Regions from separate parts of the Homo sapiens genome. Here region 2 is linked to region 1. The links come from fine-mapping of genetic effects on gene expression. A gene starts in region 1. The other region holds a variant in brackets. All regions are shown on one strand. Distances are between the middles of the regions. Region 1 holds the start of NEK1 (NIMA related kinase 1). Region 2 overlaps NEK1 (NIMA related kinase 1).

Evidence for each region.
Region 2: its variant is fine-mapped to the expression of NEK1 in whole blood (INTERVAL, PIP above 0.99).

Annotation. Positions count from the first base shown.
Region 1 is chr4:169,610,265-169,615,648 of GRCh38, forward strand. It overlaps NEK1 (NIMA related kinase 1), which reads right to left and starts at 2,319. Exons shown (of 36, transcript NM_001199397.3): 1 at 1,958-2,319; 2 at 1,756-1,879. RefSeq lists enhancers at 1,792-1,911, 2,332-2,391.
Region 2 is chr4:169,487,834-169,493,217 of GRCh38, forward strand. The region is part of intron 23 of NEK1 (NIMA related kinase 1); the gene reads right to left. Among named protein-coding and RNA genes, the nearest start is that of NEK1, 120 kb to the right of the region's middle. The variant G/C (reference allele first, on the strand shown) is at 2,449.

The DNA.
Region 1 (5,384 bases):
ATGCTGGGAATACAGGTGTGAGCCACAGCGTCTGACCCAGAATTTCTTTCTTTTTTTCTTTTTTCTTTGAGACAAGCCTCACTCAGTCGCCCAGGCTACAGTGCAGTGGCAGTATCTCGGCTCACTGCAACCTCTGCCTCCCGGGTTCAAGCAATTATCCTGTGTTAGCCTTCCAAGTAGCTGGGATTACAGGCACGCACCACCACGCCCGTCTAATTTTTTGTATTTTTGGTAGATATGGGTTCGCCAGGTCAGCCAGGCTTGTCTCAACCTCCTGACCTCAAGTGATCCACCCACCGTGGCCTCCCAAACTGCTGGGATTACAGGTAAGAGCCACAGCACCCAGCCACTAAGAATTTCTTTAAAGCCACAAATAAGCAATTTTGGACATAATAAAATTTTGTGAGCCACATATAAACAATTTTAGAGTATATGAATGGAAAAGCTCAACTTCGATCAATCTGGAACACATACTTAGGTTAAGCATTAAGCTCTCATCAGGTGTTTCAGATATTCTATAGACAGGCTGTCTTGAAGGGAAACATGGTAAAGGCATGGCAACAGGTTTCAAGAAGTCTTTTGGCGCTGTATGCAGCTACAATCCATACATACAGTTCTGCCTAAGCAATAAATACCATCTTGAATAGTGGGAGGGGATCCATTTATCTTCTCAGGAAAAAAGTTCTTTATCTTCCTTTATTCGAAAAAGCAGAAAGCAAAAATGGAATTTCTATTAGACTTTTTTCAAAATATTTTTTCTTCTCTGTAAGTCTATTCAGACAATATTCAACAGATTTTGTAGTAGAAACTACCAACAGGTAAATAAAGAATGTACATTCGTGAAAAGGTGTCATGTTCATGACTTAGACTAGAAGGCAGGAGATTAGACAGGGCAAAATTTACTTGGAATACAATGTCAATGTACTATTCACACGACCTCAAAAGAACTTCTGTGGTCAAGTCCGACGACCTTTATTAAATTCCTGACAGTGACTTTTAACGTGAAAAAAACCTGTTTTCCCACAAAATAGGCTCCTTACATTTCACCTAGAACAATGGATATTTTAAGTGAAACAGATCTGTAGAACCTCTAAAACCAGACAAATGTAAACTAGAAACAAGGAGTTACTTCTCTCCAAATTTGGCTCCCCTCCATCAGCTCTACAATACTGCTGCATCATAAAAAAAGGTCATTAACTTAGATTGGATGCCACTTTTAATCCTTCATAAACATTTCTAATGAAACATACCAAGGCAATAAAAAATATTTCTGCTTCCTAAAGCAGATCTTAAAGAACAAAAAATAGGCCTGCAAAAAAAGTTATGATAAACTCTTAAAGTAGTACAACAATTAATGCCTTACATATGGAAACTGTGTCAAATCATGGAAACAGAAATCTAAGATTACAGGGTAACCAGCTAACTACTACTCATATTCGCTTCCTAATTAAAATTTATCAGTAATTTAAGATTGGACACAACATAAGCAATGCAAATGCTTGCTTATCCATACTAAGATTCCTATTATTTTAATCCCATTACCGCTCTAGTTTTTAAAAATACCGTAATGTCCAAGAATCGCTTTGTTAATACAGAGTGTCTTAGAGAATTAACATTTAAATGAGATTAAGGTATTTTCCCTGCAAACACTTAAGGTATCTGTGTAATCTCAATATAAGCAGTTCTACGCACATCTCATTTCCAGGATGATTTTTACCATTTTGCATGTCATTCCTTCCCCCAAGTGGAACTCACCTCAGTGACACAGGACGTTAGTAGGAATAACGGTGATGACTAATAAGCATCAGTCTAGGTGTGGCAGTCTTCCTACGGGGCTTAATAAAGCAGAGGTACCATCCCGCATTTTGAAAATGACATCCTGAAAGAGAAACCAAGACTGTCTAACCAGCAGCAGCTCACAGTCCAGACTGAAAGGGGGCACTGAGACTCTCCACACCTGACACTCGTCTTCAGTTGATACCACGGGTTTGACTCCGTCCTGTCTCGGGCGACGCCCGTAAGACAGGTCGACACTACCCCGACGAAACAAACAAACTGGTTTCTGAGCCCCGTAGAAACGGCGGGGTGCAGCAGGGGGAGTGCCTCCGTTACCGCCTCTCCAACTTCACAGAGGTCGTTGCTAGTGGCCACGGCGGGGTGGGGACGGGCGGCGTTCGGGACTGGGAAGCTACTTGACTGCCACGTGCTCCTGCCTCGCAACAGCGGCTCTAGATTCCGAGTTATGGGGACAACTGCTCGAGAGGCCAGGGTAGGGTAAGGACTCCGCAACCTAGGGTCCCAAAACCCTGGAGCGAATGCGGACTAAGGGAGAGCGGCCGGCGCGTCACCGGCGCTGGCGTGTGACGTCAGCGCGTGGAAGGCGGCACGCAGCGGAGGCGGCTGGGAAGGAGCAGTGAGGCTGGGCTAGAACCGTAGGGTCGGGCGGGGTGCTGTGCGAAGGGGCGGGCGGGGTGCTGTGCGAAGGGACGGGAGGGGCGGGCTCTGCAGGCGGGAAGACAGAAAGGACGAGACGGGAGAGATGAAAAGGATGGAGAGAGTGTAAAGCTGTTAAGAGTCATGCAGAGATGCGGGAGAGAACTCACTAGTTGAAACCAATTTGGAATATAAAGCATATAAAATTTTCCCACAGCTACTACACCGAGAAAGGGACTTTTTTATTTTACATGAAAGCGCACTACTTAGGGATGCCACATTTTAAAGAGCAATTTTGCTTTAAAAAGCAAGTCTTTTCCTATTATATCTTGGATGGTTGAAACAGAAGAATGTTTAAGTCTTGAGATATTTTTAAAAAGCTGTATGGGGTTTTCTACACCTTTACATCTAATGTATGTATAAATTACTTGTCTGTATGTTGAAGGGTTTGGAAATGTACAGCAGTCTAAGTACATTTTTTCACTGCAGGACTGGCGAAGGTAGGAAGAGATTCCCCTAAAACTATAATAAGGGATATCATCTGGCGTCATCCTGAGTGGCCCTACTCAGGGCAACTTTATTCCTAGGGACATTGAAAGATTTTGGCGGCTTTGCCAGACGATGGCGCTGCAAGTCACCCAACCTGAAAAGCTGGAGAGTTTGTTTTATCTCCTCTTCAATCGCCATACAGCTACAAAAGACTTATTTTCCTCATTCTTTCTACTTCTAGTCTACACTCCTGTGGGCCCTCCTACCCCCAGTTAGTAGGAATTATCATGTCTGAATGCACAATTGTAGTTCTACCCACATCCTTTTGTACATCAAAGTGAAGTGAAATGTTGCCAATTACTAATCTAAGCAAATTCTTTTTGCTGCTTACAGGAAGAATGGCTAGTCAGCTAACCTCCTTAGATAATTCTTTAGGCTCATGTCATAAACTATTGGTAGGACTACAAACTGCTACAGTCTTTCTAGAAGGTATGCTAGCAGTATGCATATCCTTTGACTCAGCAATTTAACTTCTGGAACAAGTGAGCAATGATTTATATACAAGGATAACCGTTATTGTTTATAACCAGAAAAACTAGAAATACTGTAAATGTATAACAATAAAGAATTGATTAAATTATAATATATCCAAACAATGAAATACTCTAAAGCCATTTAAAAGAGTAATCAAGATCTACTTTATTGACATACAAAGATACCATTGATATATTGATGAGTAAATAAAGCAGGTTACCTAAGAAGATTACCTGATTTCCCTTTCTGGTTTATATACCCCTGTACAATTGATTTTTTTTTTTATTTTTAAACAAGAGTGCTTTGGGGTTTCTTTTTCTTTAAATATTTTATTGGACTTTTCTTTCAAACAAAAAAGTTTTTGCTTCTTGCAACAAGCCAGTAACACAAGTACACAAAGATAAAGCCTATCGTCTCCTTCCCAGAGCTCTTCTGTGCTGTCCTCCACGAAACCAATGTTAACAGTTAATTAATATCATCTACATTTTTCTCTAAGTTCCTAAAAACATAAGCATGCATTTTTATATTTTATATATTAGTCTTAGTCTTTTATTTACTTATTTATTTTGGAGACAGGGTCTCATTCTGTTTCCCAAGCTGGAGTGCAGTGGCGCGATCTTAGCTCCCTGCAACCTCCGCCTTCCAGGCTCAAGTGATTCTCCCACTTCAGCCTCCCGAGCAGCTGGGACCATGGGTGCGTGCCATCACACCTGGCTAATTTCGGTATTTTTTTTGTAGAGATAGGGTTTTTGCCATGTTGCCCAGGCTTCTTGTGTGTGTGTTTTGTAGAGATGGGTTCTACCATGTTGCTCAGGCTGGTTTTGAACTCCTGAGCTCAAGTAATTCTGCCTGCTTTGGCCTCCCAAAGTGCTGGGATTACAGGCGTGAGCCACTGTGCCTAGCCGGGACTATAGTATACATATTATTTTGCAACGTACATTTTTAAATTTAATAGTATATGAACATCTATGCGGATATCAACTAATTCTTGTGAATGATATTGATATTTCATGATATGGCTATACCAAAATCTACTCCATTCAGTAGACATATTGTTTCCAATGGTATAATTACTTCTGTGGGATAGATTTCGAAAAGTAGGTTTGCTGGGTCAAAATGTATGCATATTTTTTCACTTTAACACTCCTATGTCTTGGTTATGAAAATTTCTTAACTCCTTATTAATAGTGGTAGTACAATATAGTAAATGGAAGGGGACTAGCAGTATACCTAAGCTATTCTACTAGATTTTTCAGAAATATATTCTGCCATGCATTCACAATTAAGCACTATATGTTAGATGATGGGGACAAACATATTCAAAGAATGGATATTGTTATTCCTTCTTTCTAGAAAGCAGGCAGCAAGGTGAAACAAAATAGAGAATAACAAATTAGAGCAAATGGTTGGTATAGAACTACACTATTTTCCCTTTGTGAAATTATTATGTAAATGATTTTATTAAGACTATGTATTTATGAAGGCATAAGTTCTGATTATACTCACCTAAAATCTTTTTTTTTAAATTATACTTTAAGTTTTAGGGTACTTGTGTACAACATGCAGGTTACATATGTATACATGTGCCATGTTGGTGTGCTGCACCCATTAACTCGTCATTTAACATGTTAATGCTAACCCTCCCCCCTCCTCCCACCCCAGAACAGGCCCCGGTGTGTGATGTTCCCCTTCCTGTGTCCTTGTGTTCTCATTGTTCAATTCCCACCTATGAGTGAGAATATGCATACTTACCTACAATCTTTTGTGATTAGAGAAGGGCCTAAAATACTAAATATGAAGAAAAGCATTCTCTAAAATCCAGATCTTTTACAGACATGTAATATTCAAATCCAAGGGAGAAAAAAAAGTCAATGTCTTGGCATTTAGTACTCCATCTTGCTACATTCTAGGCGAGAAATTTTTAGTTA
Region 2 (5,384 bases), 120 kb before region 1:
TGATTTTTTAATAATTGCCATTCTGACTGATGTGATATGGTATTTCTCTGTGGTTCTGATTTGCATTTCTCTAATGATCAGAGATGTTGAGCTTTTTTTCATGTTTGTTGGCTGCATGCATGTCTTCTTTTTAAGAAGTGTCTGTTTATGTCCTTTGCCCATTTTTTAATGCGTAAAAATGGACATTTTTGTTTTTTTCTTGTAAATTTGTTTAAGTTCCTTGTAGACTCTGGATATTAGCTCTTTGTCAGATGGATAGATTGCAAAAATTTTCTCCCATTCTGTAGGTTGTCTGTTCACTCTGATGACAGTTTCTTTTGCTGTGCAAAAGCTCTTTAGTTAATTAGATCCCATTTGCCAATTTTTGCTTTTGTCGCTATTGCTTTTGGCATTTCATCATGAAATCTTTATTTGTGCCTGTGTCCTGAACGATACTGCCTAGATTTTCTTCTAGGATTTCTATAGTTTTGGGTTTTACATTTACATCTTTAATCCATCTTGCGTTAACTTTTGTATAAAGTTTAAGGAAGGGGGATCCAGTTTCAATTTTCTGCATATGACTAGCCAGTTCTCCCAGCACCATTTATTAAATAGGAAATCCTTTCCCTATTGCTTGTTTTTGTCAGGTTTTTCAAAGATCAGTTCCGTGTAGGTATGTGGTTTATTTCTGAGTTCTCTATTCTCTTCCATTGTTCTATGTGTCTATTTTTGTACCAGTACCATGCTGGTTTGGTTACAGGGCAGTGATTTTTATCCTTTGTTAGATTGAAAATATTATACTTTTGAGAATCCAAGGAAATATACGTGGTTTTACTGAAGAAAATGCACCAACATACATACTGCCAAACTTTACATTAATATTTTAGGGGGCTTAATAATGCTAGCTTCAATTCTGAATTCCATGTTAACCACTCCTGAGTAACGGTCAATGAGTAAAGATAGATATATGAACACTACCCCCCAATATAACATCTAGATTATGCTATATTAGACTTTCTATTGAAATAATAGTTAAATAACTTTAATCAATTTTTTTTTGTATATTAAGCTGGATCTAAATACTTACATTATGGATACTATTTTTCTATACAATTTAGATAGAGCAACATTAGAGAATATGCCCTTCATCTAGACGAGGAAATAAAGGCCACAAACATTAAGTCAATCTTCAAACAAGCTAATTAATTGGCAAGGCTGAGACCAAAATCAGGTATTCTGATTCCCAGTCTCATTTTTTTCCCACTATACCAGTGTGCATTAAATAAACAGATGTTTCCTGAACATTTCCTTATGCACAGCTCTGGAATATCATGAGACACAGAATTCCCAATGAATTTATTTGTGTTACTATTCACCAGGTACCATGCTGAGCATTTTACGTGGTAAATCAGTTAAGATTCTTTGGTTGAAGGCAATAGAAACTAACTATAGAGGGGCGGAGGGAGGGAGGGAAGGAGGCAGCTAGGTAGCCAGGCAGCCAGGCAAGGAGGGTGGTGACATCAGCAGGATGGCAAATTACAAATGCCTAATGCTCTACCCTCTGCCCCACAAAAAAGGACAAAAACAATGAATTGATAACTGCATTTTGACCAGAGTGACTTAAGAATGTCAGAGAATAGCAAGGGAGTGGCAGAAACCCTGTGAAGCACAGGCTAAGTATGGCCATATACAGAAGGGTGGAGTCATTGTTGTGCTATTCCCTTCCCCAATGCCTAAGTCACAGCTGTGCCCCACCATTCATGGGCCCTTGTTGCTGCTGTACCCAGCCTCACAAAGTCTGGTCCATTGCTATGTCCTGCCATGCCAGAGTCACCACTACAAGGAACCTCCTCTCCTGGTGTCCAAGTTGCCACTATGCCCTACTGGCTCCAGAAACTGAAGTGCAGTTATGCCCTGCTCCCTAGGGTCCAAGCCTCTAGAACATCTCTTCTTCTCCAGACCCATGCCAGTGCTGTGCCCTGACTCTCAGGATCAGAGTCACAGCTATATCCCTGCTACCTGGGCCCAAGCTACTGGGGAATGCCTTAGAGTCAGTCCCCACCTTTGTAGAACAGCTTCATCTACCCATACCTCAGAGAGTGAACTTGTACTCAAGTCACAAGTATCATAGTAATTCAGGAAGACAGTGGGCCCAGGACCCTAGCACCACTGTAGGCTGCTTGTGAGCTCTGCCAAATCTGACAACAAGAAGGATTTCCCCAACAAAGTCTCCCCACGGTACGATAAACAAGAGCAGGAGGACCCCCACTAAAGCCCTTGTCACTGAGAATCCTAATAACCTATGCTGCTACCACTGCTGTCACACACTCCTACAGTCATGGCTAAAGTACCTGCAGCCATTACTCAAATTGATTACAACTGAAGGAGCTGCATGGACACTACACTACCGTGCCTACCTGGAACCAGAGGCAGAACCTCTGCCCTTGAGCCACTGCACCACCACCCACA[G/C]AGCCAATGCACCCTGCTCAACTGACCCCCTAGCAATCATCTATAGGTAAAATCATCCCCTACAAAAGCAACTCTATAGATTTGGAAGAGGTCACTGATCCACTAGATGTGCAGTTATCAATGCAAGGACACAAGAAACATGAAAAAGCAGGAAAACATGACACCATCAAAGGAATAATTCTCCAGATAATGACCCCAAAGAAATGGAAATTTACAAATTACCTGATAGAGAAATCAAAGTAATGATCTTACGGAAACTCAGGGATATACAAGAGGATAGACAATTCAATGAAATCAGCAAAATAATCCATGATATGAATCACAAGCTCAATAAAGATATACATAACACAAAAAGAACCAAACAGAAATCTTGGGGCTGAAGAATTCAATGAATGAAATTGTTAAAAACTGAGAGCTTCAACAGCAGACTAGATCAAGCAGAGGAAACAATCTGTGAATTTGAAGATAGGTCTTTTGAAGTTGCCCAGATAGAGAAAAAGTGAAGAAAGCCTATAGGAATTATGGAACACCATGAAAGGAACAAATGTCACAGTATGAGCTCTAGAAAGAGAAGAGATGAGGCCGGGCATGGTGGCTCACGCCTGTAATCCCAGCACTTTGGGAGGCCAAGGCGGGAGGATCACGAGGTCAGGAGATCAAGACCATCCTGGCTAACATGGTGAAGCCCTGTCTCTACTAAAAATACAAAAAATTAGCCAGGTGTGGTGGCATGCGCCTGTAGTCCCAGCTACTTGGGAGGCTGAGGCAGGAGAATCGCTTGAACCCAGGAGGTGGAGGCTGCAGTGAGCCAAGATTACGTCACTGCACTCCAGCAACAGAGGAAGACTCCATCTCAAAAAAAAAAAAAAAAAAAAAAAAAAAGAGAGATGGAGAAAGGCACAGAAGGCTTTTTAAGTGAAGTACTTGCTGAACACTTCCCAAGTCTTGGGAGTGATATGGTCATCCATATCTACAGAAGTTGAAAACTAACAAACAGGTTCAATGCAAAGAGGTCCTCACCAAGGCACTTTATAATTTAAAACATTAAAAGTAAAAGACAAAGAATTTTAAAAGCAGAGGGAGAAGAGCATCAAGCAACATACAAGGGGCTCGCCATTAGACTATCAGCAGATTTCTCAGCAGAAATCTTGCAGGTCAGGAGAGAATGGGATAATATACTCAAGGTGCTAATTAAAAAAACCCTGCCAGCCAACAATACTATACTTAGAAAAGCTGTTTTTCAGAAATAAAATAGAAGTAAAGTCTTTCCCAGATAGACAGAAGCTAAGGGAATTCATCACCTCTAGAACTGATTTACAAGAAATGCTTAAGAGTTCTTCAACCAGAAACAAAAGAACAATAACTACTACCACAAGAACATATCAAAGTATAAAACTCACTGGTAGAGAGGTATTTATATATATTCAAATTCAGAATATTCCATTACTGCAACAATGGTGTGTAAATCTCTCAAATTGCTATTATAAAGGTTAAATGTTGAAACAGTAAAAAACAACTGTAATTGCATTAAGTTGTTATGAAGTCCAAAATGTAAAAAGGTATAAACTGTGACAGCCAAAATAATTGTGAGGAGGGTAAAAGTCTAGAATATCTTCATGTGACAAAGTTAAATTGTTATCAGCTTAAAATAGTCTATTATTACTATAAGATGCTTTGTGTAAGCCTCATGATTAACTACAAAGCAAAAAACTACAGTAGATACACAAATGAGAACGAGAAAGGAATCAAAACTTAGCACATAGCACAAAATCACAAGAGTAGACAATAAGAGAAGAAGAAAGGAACAAAGGACCAAAAAACAACCAGAAAACAATAACAAATGCAGTAGTACGTGCTTACCTATCAATAACAATCTTCAATGTAATTAAGCTCTCCAATCAAAAGATTTAGAATGGATGGAAAAATAAGATTCAGACGCTGCTTCAAGATTGTGACTACGGACATCTCATGCCCGTTCTCCTCAGAAGGAAGATCAAAATTACTGGTAAATCATCAAGTTTTGACAAGGAAACAGAGGGAACAGAGCCAGGACCTGTTGGAGTACCCACGTGAAGAAGATTGGGTGGAGAGAAAGAAAGCAGCAAAAGTCTGGTTGATAGCGACCGCTGAGGAACTCAGAGTCCAGCAGAAACTGTAGGTGGGAGTGTGTCTCTGCTCCCCTCACCCCTCTGACAACACACTGGCTGCTAAACAGCTGGGGAGCCCCTCAGCCCTTGCAAGCCAGGGCAACACTATCGGTGGCGATTAGAGGACTTCCTGAAAACAGAGAACTGGGTGAGCAGCTGACTTAGCCATGCTGCACCCACCTCTGATCCAAACTGAGATGGCAGTTGTCATACCAGTTGTGTACCTGTGGTGCCACTCCCCTTGCTTGTAGATCCTCTGCCCTTGAGCCACTGCACCACCACCCGCAGACATACTACACAACCTACTCTGACTTTGGCAAGTACATGACACCAGCAGATTCTCAGGGAGTTTGGGGTCTCCCACAGATTGAACACTTGGCACAAACTGCCCCTCAAGGAGGAGACAGAGCAGCCTGTCAAAGCCACCAATGGGAAACAGGAAATGTGGGTGCAGCACTAACCACTGAAGGGGGCAGCGCCAATGCCTCGGAACAAACGTGGAGAAGGGGGTCATCTCTCACCTTCTCATCTCGCCAAAGTGCATGATTGTGGACATGGCAGCAGTTCTTTCTGTTGGGGCCCAATGGCCCTTTCTGGGCTTCTCTGGTGGCTCGATGAAAGTGAACAGAGCCTAAATAAATCTGCTGTATCTTACTCTTCGGCACCATCTACTGGACTGCAGCCTGAATTACACCGCCAAGCAAAAACTACAAAAAACAGCATCTGAGAAAGCCACCACACAAACCTACCTGCAACCAAAAAACCCATATGGAGCTTTGGCCCCCTAAA